Homo sapiens: one gene and its partners. The protein of the gene in region 1 purifies or fractionates together with the protein of each later gene. This does not show direct contact. Each region holds a gene or a part of one and is shown on either strand. Other genes may lie near its edges.

What was found.
Region 2: the proteins of NPB (region 1) and MUC7 purify together in Homo sapiens (affinity purification with mass spectrometry; 2 studies listed by BioGRID and IntAct, with this or other methods). This does not show direct contact.
Region 3: the proteins of NPB (region 1) and PIGR purify together in Homo sapiens (affinity purification with mass spectrometry; 2 studies listed by BioGRID and IntAct, with this or other methods). This does not show direct contact.
Region 4: the proteins of NPB (region 1) and ECE1 purify together in Homo sapiens (affinity purification with mass spectrometry; 2 studies listed by BioGRID and IntAct, with this or other methods). This does not show direct contact.

Annotation. Positions count from the first base shown.
Region 1 is NC_000017.11:81,900,367-81,903,859, forward strand, and holds NPB (neuropeptide B preproprotein), read left to right. Parts: upstream 1-1,871; 5' UTR 1,872-1,911; coding exon 1,912-2,160; exon of another isoform or gene 2,161-2,253; coding exon 2,254-2,382; 3' UTR 2,383-2,539; downstream 2,540-3,493. UniProt on the Homo sapiens protein: May be involved in the regulation of feeding, neuroendocrine system, memory, learning and in the afferent pain pathway.
Region 2 is NC_000004.12:70,474,761-70,478,696, reverse strand, and holds part of MUC7 (mucin-7 precursor), read right to left. Parts: intron 1-3,936. UniProt on the Homo sapiens protein: May function in a protective capacity by promoting the clearance of bacteria in the oral cavity and aiding in mastication, speech, and swallowing. Binds P.aeruginosa pili.
Region 3 is NC_000001.11:206,936,467-206,940,402, forward strand, and holds part of PIGR (polymeric immunoglobulin receptor precursor), read right to left. Parts: intron 2,998-3,936; coding exon 2,653-2,997; intron 1,286-2,652; coding exon 629-1,285; intron 1-628.
Region 4 is NC_000001.11:21,234,964-21,238,899, forward strand, and holds part of ECE1 (endothelin-converting enzyme 1), read right to left. Parts: intron 3,282-3,936; coding exon 3,171-3,281; intron 1,882-3,170; coding exon 1,783-1,881; intron 965-1,782; coding exon 887-964; intron 1-886. UniProt on the Homo sapiens protein: Converts big endothelin-1 to endothelin-1.

The DNA.
Region 1 (3,493 bases):
AACCCTGAGTCATGACTGGGAGGAGAAGGAGCAGGATCAGACGGTAGAGCCTGGGGCATGCTCTTCAGGCATGCTCTTGCCTGCTGGATTGCCGGCGGCGGCCCTGGGACCCTCCCTCAGGCTGGCTCTGAGGGACCCTGGCTGTGCAAAGCTGGCGGCCACTGCTTGTGGCGCCTCCAGACTGAAGGCCACCATCTCTGAGTGGGCGTCCATTGTTCTCACTGGGACTGTCTGCAGCGGGGCTGGGCCTCCCACAGTGTAGGGATCAGTGTCCTGACACTGGGAAGTGTGTCCACACGTCTGAGGCTTCCCTTCCTAGGGAAAGGTGGCCCTGGGAGGCTCCTTTGTGTGCCTCTGCTCCCCACAATCGTGGTGGGAAGGGGCCGCTGGGGGAGTGGCAGCCCCGGCATCTCAGGCTGCTTCTGGACAGAGCACAGGCTGTGTCTCCAGTAACCTAGGGAGCCCTTGGCATTCATGGGGCCAGTGACCCGTGCCCAGTGTCTCTTGACCCTTCCTCACAGCAACCTGAGGAGTAGACCAGGCCTCACCTGAAATCTGTGTCAGGGTTCTCTAGAGAGACAGGACTCTATATGAAGAGTATATATGAAGAGTTTATTGGGAGTATTGACTCACGTGATCACAAGGTGAAGTCCCACAATAAGCCATGTGCAAGGTGAGGAGCAAGGAAGCCAGTCTGAGTCCCAAAACAAAAGTAGAGAAGCCGATAGTGCAGCCTTCATCCTGTGGCCAAAGGCTGCAGAGCCCCTGGCAAGCCACTGGTGTAGGTCCGAGAGTCCAAAAGCTGAAGAACCTGGAGGCCGACGTGCGAGGGCGGGAAGCATCCAGCATGGGAGAAAGATGGAGGCCAGATTCAGCCAGTCTAGTCTTTCCACGTTCCTCTGCCTGCTTGTATCCTGGCTGTGCTGGCAGCCGATTAGGTGGTGCCCACCTGGATTGAGGGTGGGTCTGCCTCTCCCAGCCCACTGACTCAAATGGGAATCTCCTCTGGCAACACCCTCACAGACACACCCAGTGACAATACTTTGCATCCTTCAATCCAGTCAAGCTGACACTCAGCATTCACCATCACACCTGGGAAGCATGGAACCCAGAAACAAGTGCCAGGGCTCCAGTGCCAGTGCCTGTCCTGGGAAGATACCCAAGAGAAGACATGACCAGGACCTTGGGGGAGCATGAAATGGTGAGGGCACAGTGAGCTTGAAGGCTGATGTCACCTGCCAGGAGAGCGGCTGGCAGTCCTGCCTGGTGCCCCCCAAGGGGCAGAGCTGGCAGAGAGGGGCCTCCAATCGAAGGCCAGGAGTCGTGGAGCTCCAGTGCCTTGGTGTGGCTGGCCTTCTTGCCCCCCTCCCAGAGGACCCCGCCAGTAACAGCCCTGCTGGTGGAACCTTCCCCAGTGGGCATGAAAGAAATGAGGGCCCCACAAGCCACATGGACTCTGATGCCTGGAGCCAAGAATACCCCTTAGGGTGGTAGAAACCGCCCCCGGGGCACTGTGCAGTGTGGCTGGCTCTCCAGCATCAGGAGTACTGGGGATTGCCTGGGGGACGACTCCTAGGGCTGGGCGCCCGTGGGCCCTCCCCTGCTGCCACTGCGGCCCACGCAAGCCGGGCCTGAAGGGCGCGAGCGGCATGGGTGGGGAGCTTGAGGGGGCGTTGGGCTCCCACCAAGCGCCAGATCCTTGCGCGCCTCCAGCGCTCGCCCGCGCGGCTGGTTCCTTTGGGATGCGGAGGTGCGACGGCTCCTCCGCGCGCGCCCGCTGCACCCCAGCCCGCCCGCCGCCCCTCCCGGCCCTCCGCAGCCTCGGCCCGCCCTCGCCGCAGATATAAGGCGGCCCAGGCGGTGGCTGCTCCGAGCCCGGACGCCGCCGCCCACCAGTCAGCCGGCGTCCCCATGGCCCGGTCCGCGACACTGGCGGCCGCCGCCCTGGCGCTGTGCCTGCTGCTGGCGCCGCCTGGCCTCGCGTGGTACAAGCCAGCGGCGGGGCACAGCTCCTACTCGGTGGGCCGCGCCGCGGGGCTGCTGTCCGGCCTCCGCAGGTCCCCGTACGCGCGGCGCTCCCAGCCCTACAGAGGGGCGGAACCCCCGGGCGGGGCCGGCGCCTCCCCGGAGCTGCAACTGCACCCCAGGCTGCGGAGCCTCGTGAGTCCGGCGTGCCGGGGACTGATGGGGGGCGGCGGCAGGACGTGGGTGGGGGTGCGGCGGCCCCTCAGCCTTTGCTTGCCTGCCCCCCAGGCTGTGTGCGTCCAGGACGTCGCCCCAAACCTGCAGAGGTGCGAGCGGCTCCCCGACGGCCGCGGGACCTACCAGTGCAAGGCGAACGTCTTCCTGTCCCTGCGCGCAGCCGACTGCCTCGCCGCCTGAGCCCGGACCTCTCCTGGCACCGCTGGGGGCCCCCCGCCCCCACCGTCCCACTCGGTGACCCCAGGCCCCTCCGGCGCGGGATGGCGCCCCAGGTCTCCCCTACTCCGCTCACCCCGCAGTTAATGGCAAACGAATAAATAAATGAGGCGGCCTCGGAGTGAGGGGTGCTGGAGGACTGGCAGCCAGGCCACGAGGGGAACGGGACCTGGAAATCCCCAAGCCTGGGTATGAGAAGGCAGCCGAGTGTGCGGCGGCAGGGCAAGGTTGGCCTGGGCCGCCCAGAGGTCTTCAGACCCAGGGGCGAAGCTGGCCACGACCCAGCCCCGCGGTGAAGCCGCGCCTAGCCTTGGTGCTCCCTGGGGGAAGTGCAGGGCCACGGCTGGCCCGGTTCCCAGTGTCCTCCCCCAGCCCTTCGCTCCCCAACTCGAGAGCCAAATCTGTGAGGGCATGGGCTGGAGCCCCTGGCTGCCTTCCTCTTGCCCCCATCCCTTCTGGCCAGGCCAAGTCCGAGGGTGCAGGGGCAAGGAGGAGAGTTGGGGGCCTGAGCCCTGGCTCCAGAGGCCCAGAGCATGCCTCCCCAGAGCTGAAGGTGGGAGATGGGTAGGTTCTCCCTCCGCCGTTGGGTGTGACTCCGGAACTGGCTTGGGCTCTGGCCTCCAATGCTGCTACGGGGCCAGGCCCACCTCCGGGCCCAGGCAGCAGCACTGCAGGGCCTTTCTACCCTCCCCAAGCCTGGGGCCCAGGCAGCCCCTGTCCAGCACCAATCTGTCTATGGGGAACTGGCTGGTCCCTCTGCTCAGGGGACCCCGCAGTCCAGGGTTCTGAGTGGGAGCATTGGCACCACCCCACTCCTGAAAGCGGGGGCCTGGCAGGATGAGGATGGCCTGTGCCCCCCACACCTTGGCCCCTGGCTCGGAGAGCAGGGTGACAGGCTGCCTTCCTGGGCTGTGGAGAGCCTCGCGTGCACCTCGCCTCCAGCTCCTGTGCTGGGTCGTGAGGTCGACCTCACAACAGCAGAGGACAGGCCCATGGGGTGCCACATGGGCCAGGTGCTGTAGGGCAGAGGCCATTCTGGAGAGGAATGTGGGGCTGAAAAAAGTACTGATCATAA
Region 2 (3,936 bases), on another chromosome or scaffold:
CTCACATTCCATGATCTCGGTCTTTCCCTTTCCAGATGGTCTCTGAGGATGTTGCAAAGAATGTCCAGATCTTATAGGAACATGTATGAAACATGCTGCAACAGACCAGCAGTGGAGGTTTGGCTCTGTCCTGTGTCTGCCACTGAATAGCTGAGTGACTTTGGTCAAGTCACTTAATGTGCCTGGATGTCGGCTTATTCATTTATAAAATGATTTGGATTAAATTAAATTCCAGATCCAAAGTCTAATTTTATTTGCTTTGAAATAGTTATGTGGTTCATTCCCTTAATCACATGAGCCTCACGAAGGCCCCTCTTTGATTCACCTCTGTAAGTCCAATACCTAAAACTATGCCTGGCATATGGCAGGTACTCATTAGCTATTAATTGAATGAGTAAATGCATGGAAATGATAACAATAACTAATTTGTTATTGAATAAAGTATTAACATTTAAAAGTGTTTATTCATATGTAAAATAGTTTCAGCTATTTTACTTTAGGTGACCAAAATAATACCTACCACATTTTTATATGAAGGCAAATTGATTAAAATCCTATTAATTTTAATGTTAGCTTGGCCTGGAACATGTATCAAATGACCAGTTTGTTTGATTTACTTAATATATTGATTAGTTATTATGATTGGCAGTTACAGGTGGTTATAACAGAAATTGTAGACTAGAGTTGGATTTAGAGAAGTCTGAGAGAGGAAGGAGTTGAAAATGCATGCCTCTAAAGTTTGAGTTTAGGTGACTGAAGTATGGAGGTCCTTATAATAAATATAGATATGCCAGGGAGGGTGTATTAAAGATAGCAACCCTGCCTGCCTGTTCACATTCATTATTTATTTTTATTAAAAAAGTCTTCATGTAACACTTTATGTTAGGCCCTATTCTGAGTGGTTTACAAATACAAATTTATTTAATTTCTTAGTAATATCATAAGGTGGGTACGGTTATTATCTTCATTATATGGATGGGAAAACTGAGTCTCAGACTAAGTAACTTTTAGGAGAATGTTTCTCCATTTGCAAACTGTACTTTTGAGAGCAGAGAAGAGGGAGAAGACATGAGGAACAAGGATAGAGTAGGCTGGAGTCAAGGGAAGGAGAAGGAGAGACACATGGCACTTGCAGCAAGAAAGGAGGGTATGAGAAAGCAGAAGACTCCTAAAATAACTAGAGGAATGCCAAATTCTCTGAGGAAGGAAGAGGAGGAGAAAATTAGTCAGAAAGGGAGAGAATTAGAAGACAGAAAGGCCAAGATTACATTTTTTACTTTTGTATTTTGAGACAGAGTCTCACTCTGTCACCCAGTTGGAGTGCAGTGGCATGATCTCAGCTCACTGCAACCTACGTCTCCTGGGTTCAAGGGATTCTCCTGCCTCAGCCTCCCTAGAAGCTGGAATTACAGGTGTGTACTGCATGCCTGGCTAATTTTTGTATTCTTAGTAGAGATGGGGGTTTCACCATGTTGGCCAGGCTGGTCTTGAACTCCTGACCTCAGGTGATCTTCCCGCCGCGGCCTCTGAAAGTGCTGGAATTACAGGTGTGAGCCACGGCACCCGGCCCAAGATTACATTTAATTGAAATTAGAAAGCACAATTCATTTCTTCATTTGCTACCAGCTTATTTTTATGACCATTTGAAAATCTGTGATCCTTTTTTAAAGAGAATGAAAGCATTATGCTAAATAATGCTATAGTTGACAGAGCTCTTCATCTGACTCCAGAATACATCCCTTCAAGTCTTTCTTTGGGACATCTGGAAGAGAGAAGCCAGACTATCTGCTCCCTGAAATCACTCCACAAAAGCAGGTTGTTGCTAGAGCTCCAGGACTGACCTTTTCTGGCTGTGGGTTAATGCTAATCTCCGGTACATTCCTGTATTTTCTTTTCTTTTTATTTTTTTTGAGACGGAGTCTCGCTCTGTCACCCAGGCTGAAGTGCAGTGGCACGATCTTGGCTCACTGCAACCTCTGCCTCCCAAGTTCAAGTGATTCTCCTCCATCAGCCTCCCAAGTAGCTGCAATTACAGGTGTGGGCCACCACGCCCAGCTAATTTTTGTATTTTTAGTAGAGACGATGTTTCACCATGTTGGCCAGGCTGGTCTCGAACTCCTGACCTCACATTCCTGTATTTTCTAAGGATCAGGTCAAGGTATTTCTGTGCTACCTTCTCATATTCAAGTTCTTTGGAAACTCTTTCTCTCACCAGGCACTTTTTTGAGATTTGGGCAGCTTGAAGAGTTTTATTTATTCTAAGCACTTGGAAGAAAGGATTCTTTAGGTGTCTGGATTTGAGGGAGTTATGATGAAAGGCCACTTCAAAAGAACAACCCAGATTCATCATTTCACAATAACATGACTTGTGTTGATTGGAAAATTATTTCTTTCAATATAGAGGTGTTGGTAGCCAGGGATTCCTTATTAAAACTTTACTTATTAAAAAGTTAACATCACTGTGCATATTCAGAACTTAAAGCCTTATCAACTAGTATGTAAATTGAGATTACAATAATCTTGTCATAATTTTTATATCTACACTATAGTTTATAATTTATAAATTCTCATTTACCCTTCAGCAGCCCTGTGAAGCATATAGTGTTGTTATTATTTTACACATAGGGAAATTGGGGCCCTATAAATAGATTCTAAATTGCTCAAGATTCATCTGGATGGTAAACATTAGAGATGAGTTTAAGCCCACATCTTCTGAGCCCAGCTTGAACACTCTTCTAGTCACAGAAATCAGCATTAGGGTCCGGGAAAAAGCCTGATTGTTTTCTGGGGGATATTATAAGGTAAGTGAGAAATATGAGAATATCCAAGAGTAAATTCCGTCCACTTCATCAGTTCTTCTGCCCTCTCTCTCTCTACTCTACTGGCGTAATATTCTGAGGCTATCCATCCTCATTCAATAAAAAAGTACATTCCACTTCTTGATTCTTATTTGAAATTTTGTCAAAATAAAATTTAATAAATACTTGCAGGTACATAGCATGAGAGAAAAATATGGTTATTATTACAGCATGTATCACCTTGTAATCACATTATATCATTATTAATTTTAATCTTCCTTTGCCAGTACACCCTAAATTTCTTAAAGATAGAAGGTCCACTTTGTAGTCTTCTCTTGGTTTTGGAAGCCATCCTTTCCTGTCCCCTCTTGTGGGTCCTCCATTTTCTCTATCCATATCTAAACTTCCTACATTTTCTCCCTAGGTGAAAATGTTGTAAGGTTTCATGGCTTCAAGTATGTTTTAAATATAGACTTTACCCCTAGATTTCTTTCTGAACTCCAGACAACATATATCCACTGTTTTCTTGATATCTTGATGTGGAAGTCTAATAGCCATTTCAAATGTAACATGCCCCAAACTAGAACGTTTTTGTTCATTTCTTTCTTTTTTTTTCTTTTGAGACAAAATCTTGCTCTGTCACCCAGGCTGTAGTGCAGTGATGCAATCTCGGCTCACTGCAAACTCTGCCTCCCAGGTTCGAGCAATTCTCCTGTCTCAGCCTCCTGAGTAGCTGGGATTACAGGTGCCCACCACCACACCCAGCTAATTTTTGTATTTTTAATAGAGACGGGGTTTCACCATGTTGGCCAGGCTGGTCTTGAACTCCTGACCTCGGGTGATCCACCTGCCTTGGCCTCCGAAAGTGCTGGGACTACAGGCATGAGCCACCGCGCCCGGCCTGTTCATTTCTTTCTTTTACCACATATACAATCCAGCAGAAGATATAGTAGACTCAATCACTAAAATATATCCTAAACCCACTCTTATCTTTTAATTGCTGAAATTTAGTGCAAGTCACCATCATCTTTTATCTGGACCACTGCCATAGCTTCCTGACTAGTCTCCTTATCTCAGCTTTTGTTACCTGCTACCTATCTTCTCCTGAGAATCCTGTCATGTAAATCCCCTGGGAGTG
Region 3 (3,936 bases), on another chromosome or scaffold:
TTGGAACTGCAAGTACTGGTTTGCTGCTTCTCACGAGGGCAACTCTATGCAGGGTGCTCTGGGATGAGAAGGAGCTGGGATTTAATTCTTTCACCATGCTGATGGCTCACTGGAGTAGGGCTGAGTGGGCCAGATGGTGCTGAAATTCACAAATAACCCTACGAAATGTGACAGTGAAACATTTAGAGGCTGGGGCACTCCTGGGAACGCATTGAGACCAAGATAAGCCAATCCTTTTTCCATCTGAATGTGAGGGATGAGGCACCCATCTTGTTCAGGGGCCAGGGGAGGGGACAGAGGACCCCTGCAGAGCCTGCCACAGCCCTGAAACACAGTCTATAAGTCCTGCCTCAATCAAGAGCTTTACTCACCTCTTGCTTGTTAAGCAGGGACAGCCATCAAAATGACTTTGATAACAGAAGAGTAATTAGGAGCTGCCATCAGGCAGAGGTTGCTTTTTCTTGCTGTCCTGTGCAGCAGCCCACGCAGCCTCCAGTTCGGGGCTGGTCATTGAGTGGATGCTGTTGGCTGATTGATGACTATTGATGAATACACTCAGAGGGAGCTGAGCTTGGCTCTCACCTGCGAGACTGCCCCACCTACTCCCCCTCCCTCTCTAGGGTCTTACCCTCATTGACGAAGAGTTGCCAGGCCTGGATAGGCGAGCCTTCCTGCAGCTGACCATCCGAATGGGCTCCACACAGGTAGCGCCCTGCATCCTCCTTCCTCAGGCCTGTGATCACCACACTGAATGAGCCATCCTTGTCCTGGGGGTTGAGCAGGATCCTGCCCTCAAAGGCTGGGGCCCTCTTCCCCAGGGTGTTGACGACCACGTCACAGTTTTCCCCACTGCTCTGTCGGCACAGAAATTTGGCCACGTTTGCCACCTCAGGGCCCAGGGCACAGTGGAAGGTCACTGAGCCCCTCAGGTCTTCATAAACCAGCTCGGGCTCGGGCTTTAGCACTTGGAGGTCAGCATTCTTCTTATTACTATTGGAATCATCCCCAGCCTGGCAGAGATACTGCCCAGCATCGCTGAGCCTGAGTTGGTTGATGACAACGCTGAACAGTAACTGGCCAGTACCCTGAATATCAAGGCGTATTCTTCCTGTATAGTTGGGATTTACATAACCACTGGAGTCGATGACCAGCACAGGGTACAGGCCTATCTGCTTGTACAAGGACTTCCTCTTTTGAGCATTCTCAGTCTTGAAAGGGCAGTTGATGGTCACCGTTCTGCCCAGGTCCACTGTGTAGACTTTAGTGTCATTTAGGAGCCCAGGACCTGCAGGATGAGGGGTGCAAGGTAGGGGGCAGGCAAGTTACGATTCTACTTTCTTGCAACATAGGACTATTTGCTATTCCTAGTTAGGGTGTGGGTGGACTTATAACCTGGAATGCCCTCCTTCCCAGAGGAATGCTGTCGGAAGGCCCAGCTTGACAGCGGTCTTCTCCATGAAACCTTTCCCAAGCTAACACTAATCTCTCCCTGCCCTGTGCTTTCTTGATACATCTGCATCACTTATTACATCCAATCTGGTGTATGGGTAATTATGTTCTCCATGGACTGGAAGTTCCTTGAAGGCTGGAACATGTTTTTCTCATGTTTGACCCCTCTGCTGTGACAAGCACAATGCCTCTGGGTAGTAGGTGGCCAAATTAATGTGTGCTGAAATGAACAGAATGAATGTAAATGCAGGGTGATGGATTTCAACGCATACAATAGAAGTTTCTAAAAATTACAAGAGTCTAAATGTGAAATGGGCTGTCTCAGGGAGCAGTGAGTTTCTGCTAAAGTGCTTAATCAGAGGCTGCATACCCGTCATCAGCATGTTCTTCTAAGTGTCCGGTTAGGGTGAACTCTAAGCCCTCTTCACCTCTAAAGATTCTGTGGTTTTGAATCTTGATCCCCACCTAAATGACCTCCTCATTTAGTCCACAGACAATAGTATGCATATTCCAAAGGAGCAAGACATGTCTTTGGGAGTCCCCCTGAATTTCTTTTCTCCGTAGACCTCTCTTTTGAGTTGCCCTTGACTATCTAAAACAGCCTCATTGTTAAACCCTTGTCAGAAAGAGCTTTTCTTTTTTTCTCTTTCTCCAACTAGAATAGGCTTGTTAGCAACCCATCCTTTCAGGATCTTGGTCTTTGGTCAAGATCTAATAATCTAATTTACCCTGATAATACCAAAAGACTAAGGGTTCCCAGGTTAAAAAAAAAATATGCATTTTACAAGAAGCCTTTTGGCGGCCCAAACCTTGATGGAAAGGTGCATTAATGATAGGAATTTAAGGATCCCTGTAAATCTCTCCCTACCTTTTCTATCTCCTTAGCCTGATGTCAGATTTCCCTTTCTACCTGTAGCAAACACCAGAAAACTTGTCCTTCTGATACCCTTCTAAGCTGGGGTCTCCAGAAAGCCTAAAATGTTATAGGCCACCAAGTCCTAGAAGGGTTCACTCATCACCCCCAAGTAGGCCCTATCTGTCTCCTTCTCCTGTTAAAGAAGTCTTTGCCTGGGGAAAGGGGTGCCTTCTGACCCCCAACCCGGCTACACATCCTTGTCAGGAAGTTCCTCCTCAAGCCCTCCATGCACCTTAGAGAATTCCCTCTAACTTTCCCCCAGAAGCCCAAGGAGCTTGGATCCTTACCCTGGCTGACCTCCAGGCTGACATCAAAGGACAGGCCTCGGCTATTGATGCCCAGGCCACACTTGTAGCGCCCGGAGTCATCCTGGCTCAGCTGGGCAATGTTCACCACAAATGTGCCGTTCTCCGGGAAGTTGGTGAGGTTAGCCCTGCCTGCATATTTGCTGGAGACGTAGCCCTCCGAGGAGATGAGGGTTATGCAGCCACCTCTAGCTCCCTGCCGGCACCAGTACTTCCGGGTGTGCCGGTTGACAGAGGTGGGTGGGTAGTAGCACGTGATGGACACTGAGTTACCTTCCACACTATTCACCTCCTCGGGACCAAATATGGGACTCTTCGTGGAGATGGCTGTGGGAACAGAAGAGAGAGGCTTTCTGAGGCCCTTGGGAGGTAAAGCCTGTTCCAGATAACCCACTATGAGTAGATGTGGTTTTCTACCTGACACGTAGGCCCTGTGTTGATAATTTATCATATATCACAGCTGGAAAATTGCTGAGATTAAATAAAGTGACTGTTTTAATCATGATTAAATTGGAATTGTTATTCATTAATGATAACCATTTCAAGGACAAGGGAATGACAAATTTATGATAACCCTTGTTTTTTATTTTATATATTTTTATTGTTTTGAGACAAAGTCTCTCTCTGTCGCCCAGGCTGGTGTGCAGTGGCACGATCTCGGCTCACTGCAACCTCCGCTTCCCAGGTTCAAGCGATTCTCATGCCTCAGCCTCCCAAGTAGTTGGGACTACAGGTGCATGCTAGCTAATTTTGGTTTCTATTTAGTAGAGACAAGGTTTCTCCATGTTGGCCAGGCTGGTCTTGAGCTACTGACCTCAAGCAATCCACCCTCCTTGGCCTCCCAAAGTGCTGGCATTACAGCTGTGAGCCAGCATCCAGCCATCCATTGTTTTTTCAAACAATAACACCACTTTCGTAAGGTGTTACATGTTTGCACTTGCCATGTGTTATTTCCTTATATTTCTAAAAGCACTTTGTAGATGATTTTCTTTTCTTTTTTTTCCCCCAGATAAAAATATTGAGAGCCAGAAAGGATAAGTGACTTCCCTCAGATTTCACAGCGGGTCATAGAGATGCTTGGTTGAAGTTAAGGTCTTTGTTATTCTCAAAGAAGATCTTTCACAGACCCCTGGCCTTGAGATTAGGAAGTGCCATTCCTGTCCCTGACTTCCAATGCTCACAGATGTGGCCTTTCAGTGTCTTCTCTGTATGACTCTTCCTCAAGGAAGTGCCAACTTTGAGAGGGACATCCCTGGGGATGAGTCT
Region 4 (3,936 bases), on another chromosome or scaffold:
AATGAGTCTTTATAGTCTTAGGTTCTAAATATAACCATGACGAGAGGTTATTAGATTTTTAAATGCCTGAATTCAGGCTGGGCATGGTGGCTCATGAATATGAGCCAGCCTGGGAGGCGGAGGTTGCAGTGAGCTGAGATAGCACCACTACACTCCAGTCTGGGCAACAGAATGAGACCCTGTCTCAAAAAAAATTTTTTCTTAAATACCTGAATTCAAGTATTTCAATCACAAGAAGATATAAAACTTCATAATTTGAGGCAGAAGCACAATCCACCTAACTGAGTGATTTGCCAAAAGTTCTAATAAGCAGGGATGTATCAACCACCTCCATTGCCCAAACCAAGCTTAAAAATGCACCTGGATTTAAGCTGCTTCTTTCCCATTAGCATTTCAAAGTCAAAATCAGAGGTCCGGGTTTCTGGGGAGGTGGAGGAGGGCCGCAGGGACAGGAGGTAACTGGAAGCACGACCAGGGAGGGAGGAGGTGGTGTGGGGGTTTTCCCACTTCATACCCCACCCCTGATGTCTGAGGGCCACCAATTCTCTCTGCACCTTCTGGGGTCTGTTTCCTCCATTATTTCCCACATATTAAATGGAGCTGACCACTTCCAGGGGGCACACAGCACGGGTTCTGTACTGACTGGTGGGCACTGCTGATGGATGGTGGCTATGGGGAGGCAGGGCCTCCAGCTGACCCAGGAGCCAAATTAAGAAGAAGAAGAGGCTTCCTCATGCCTGACCCATACCCAAGCCCCACACCACATCATCCCTGTGTGTTTTGACAACCATGCTGCCTCTAGCACCCCATCTGGACCCAGCCCTGCCTCGGCCCTTTTCTAAGGGGGCATTTAGGAACGCAAGGGGGCAGGGCAGCAGCTACTCACGTCATTAAACACTTTGTCCAGCTCCTTGGGATCCATGATGAAGTTGGGGTATCCTATCATGTTGTAGATGGCATCGGCCTGGACAGGACAGACAGAGGAAGTGAGTGCCCGGCAACATCGACCAGGCCAGCCTGAGCAACTTGGGTGCTGGGCTCATAGTCTGGGCCAAGGGGAACCAGAGCCAGGCCCTGCCTGCCTTGGGCTTTCATGTCTTTTTCTGGAAAGGTTTCCCCCTTGCAAAACTTCTACTTATCCCTTAGGTCTCTGTTTAAATGTCACTTTCCCAAGGGAAGTCTTCCCTGACTCCCATCCCACTGGAGGGTGCCAGAGCCTTCCCGACCCACGGGACGTGCTGCGTTTTCCTGCACCTTTTCCCCGTACACTCAGCGAGGTTTGTCTTCTACAGACATCCAAGCAATCATGTGCTTGAGGCCTACCCCGAATCCTGCTAGGCCTAGACCGCTCACCCGCTGAAGGCGAGACAGCATCCAGGCTGTGCTGCCGGACAGAACTGGCCTCACCGGGCGCGGTGGCTTATGCCTATAATGCCAGCGCTTTGGCAGGCCAAGGCGGGTCGATCACCTGAGGTCGGGAGTTTGAGACCAACCTGACCCACATGGAGAAACCCCATCTCTACTAAAAATACAAAATTAACCGAGCGTGGTGGCGCACGCCTGTAATCCCAGCTGCTCGGGAGGCTGAGGTGGGAGAATCGCTTGAACCCGGGAGGCGGAGGTTGCGGTGAGCCAAGATCGCACCATAGCACTCCAGCCTGGGTAACAAGAACGAAACTCTGCCTCAAAAAACAAACAAAAAAACCGGCCTCTCCTTCCCCCACCCTCCTCTATCTGTGCTGGACGCCGCAGCACCCCCTCCAAGTGCCTGGCCAGCCTCACCTTTTCCTTGGCTGATTTTCGGGTTTCCTCATCCATCCACTTCAGGGTGCTCAGGCTTTCCTCAAATGCCTTCTTAATCTCCAGGATGATCTCGGTGGCCTGAGGAGATACACATCACAGCAGTAAGGTCTGCGCACTGGTCTCAGGTAAATGCAACAGGCACCCCGTGCAGAACAATGATGGCCAGAGATTAAACTCAATTTTCCAAGCGTCAGGCTGGGTGAGAAGGGGAGCCACAGCTGTGCTTCCAAACCACGCTCCTAACGTGAACACCCTGCAAGACAGGACTGGCCTTCCACACACAGGGCTCCATGCTCCAATAAGCTTAGGATGAGCTTCGGGAAAGTTGGAAAAGTCTCTGCTGTGGTACTTTTCAGAGCCTTTAATATGGTAATAATAGGCACCGTGATTCTTCCAGAGAGGGGAGAAGACACAGCCTCTCCCAGCCTTATTGCCTTATTGGACCACAGCATTCCTTTTTGATGGAGCGGGCTTTAAGATCTAGAGTACTCATGTTCCGAGGAGCAGCTTCGGAAATACCATGCTCAGGCTGGATATAGACAGGTGTTCTTGAGGGAGACAATGTCATGAGCAGACAAGCTCGAAGATGGAAAGTTGAAGGTTCTAGAGAAGGGGAAGGCAGAGCTGTGCGGCAACAAGAGCAGAGGGGCCAGCAGACCCCAACTCAGACCCTGCCCAGCTGCTCACAGGCCAGTCACTGTAATGGATTTGAATTGCGGTTGGCTCACCTCCGGCTGCAGATGACAGCTACATAATGAATACTATTTGTCATCAAGATTGTAACAATAAAATGACCACTCCCATTAGCTGAACCCTTATTGTATGCCGGTGCCCAGTGTGTGGCATCTCATTTAATCTCTCTCTGTGGGAGGAATGCCCCCGTCTCCACATTGCAGATGATGTAAGAACTGTCCCAGGCCACCCGACCAGCGGTGAGGCCAGGATCTGAGCTTAGGCCGGGCTGTCTCCAAGGCGCTCTGCCATGGCACTCCTCTGCCTGTCTAGAACAAACCTGTCACCCACAAAATAAGAAAAATGTCACCCTCTGGGCCAGAGCTGTTCTGCCAACATTCTCTCTGGGTCGTTCACAGCCCTTGGAGGTGGGGATGGCTGTCACAGCCTTGCAGGCTGCTGGGAGGATCACATGAGCTCGTGCAGATAAGGGCCTGGCACTGAAGAGCTGCCCTCGTGAGACTCCCATTACCCAGGGCTCGAGGAAGTGAAGCCTCTGCATTGAGGCTGTGGCCCTAAGGTCCCCTGCCCAGGAGCAGGAAAGGCCCAGGGTGGGCTGGAGTGTGAACTGGCAGGTCTGTGCAGGCCACAACAAGTGTGACCTCACAGCCTGTGTCCACGGGGAAGGCACTTACTATGCTCTTGCTGTCCTCGGCGAAGGTTGCTTTGACAAACATGGGGCCCAACGCAAAGCCCAGGTTGTTTTCTGTGTCACTCACGCAAAACTTCCAGCGAGGAAGACAGGTCTGGAAAACACAAGTCAGGGGGCTCGCTGGGCCCCAGCCCTTTGTTTCCCAACCCCTTTCTTGCTGGGAGGTAGCACCATGTGGGGCCCATGCTTTGTTCTGGAAGTTCAGGGAGAGCTTTCCGACCCAGTAAAGTTATTTTAGTCACCGGACCAAGAGGCCACTGATACCCTCACTCCCACCCCCTGCCATTTCCTGAATGCCAGGCTCTGTGCTGGGACTTCACAAATAGTGTCCCGTTGAGCCATTCAATGACCCTCGGGGCTTACAAGCCGTTTGACTGATGGGGAAACACACTCGGCACGGAGCAGCTGCTGGCCCAGGGTGCCCCACGAGTGACAAGTGTTGTTGGAATGAGAACTGAGACGTGCCTGACTCCACATCCTATGCTCCTACCTACCCCCATCTCGTCCTGCCTCCTGGGAAGAGCAGGAGTCCTGGAGGCAAAGAGCGGTGGAGAGTGACTGGTCTACCCTGAGTCACAGAAAAAACTGCCCCAGGGCCAGGGCTCCAATGCCATTGAAGATCTCCTCAAATGAGAACACCACAGCAACACCGCAGGACTTTTTTCTTTTTTTCTTTTTTTTTGGCAGGGTCTCGCTCTGTCACCTAGGCTGGAGTGCAGTGGTGCGATCACACAGCTCACTGCAGCCTC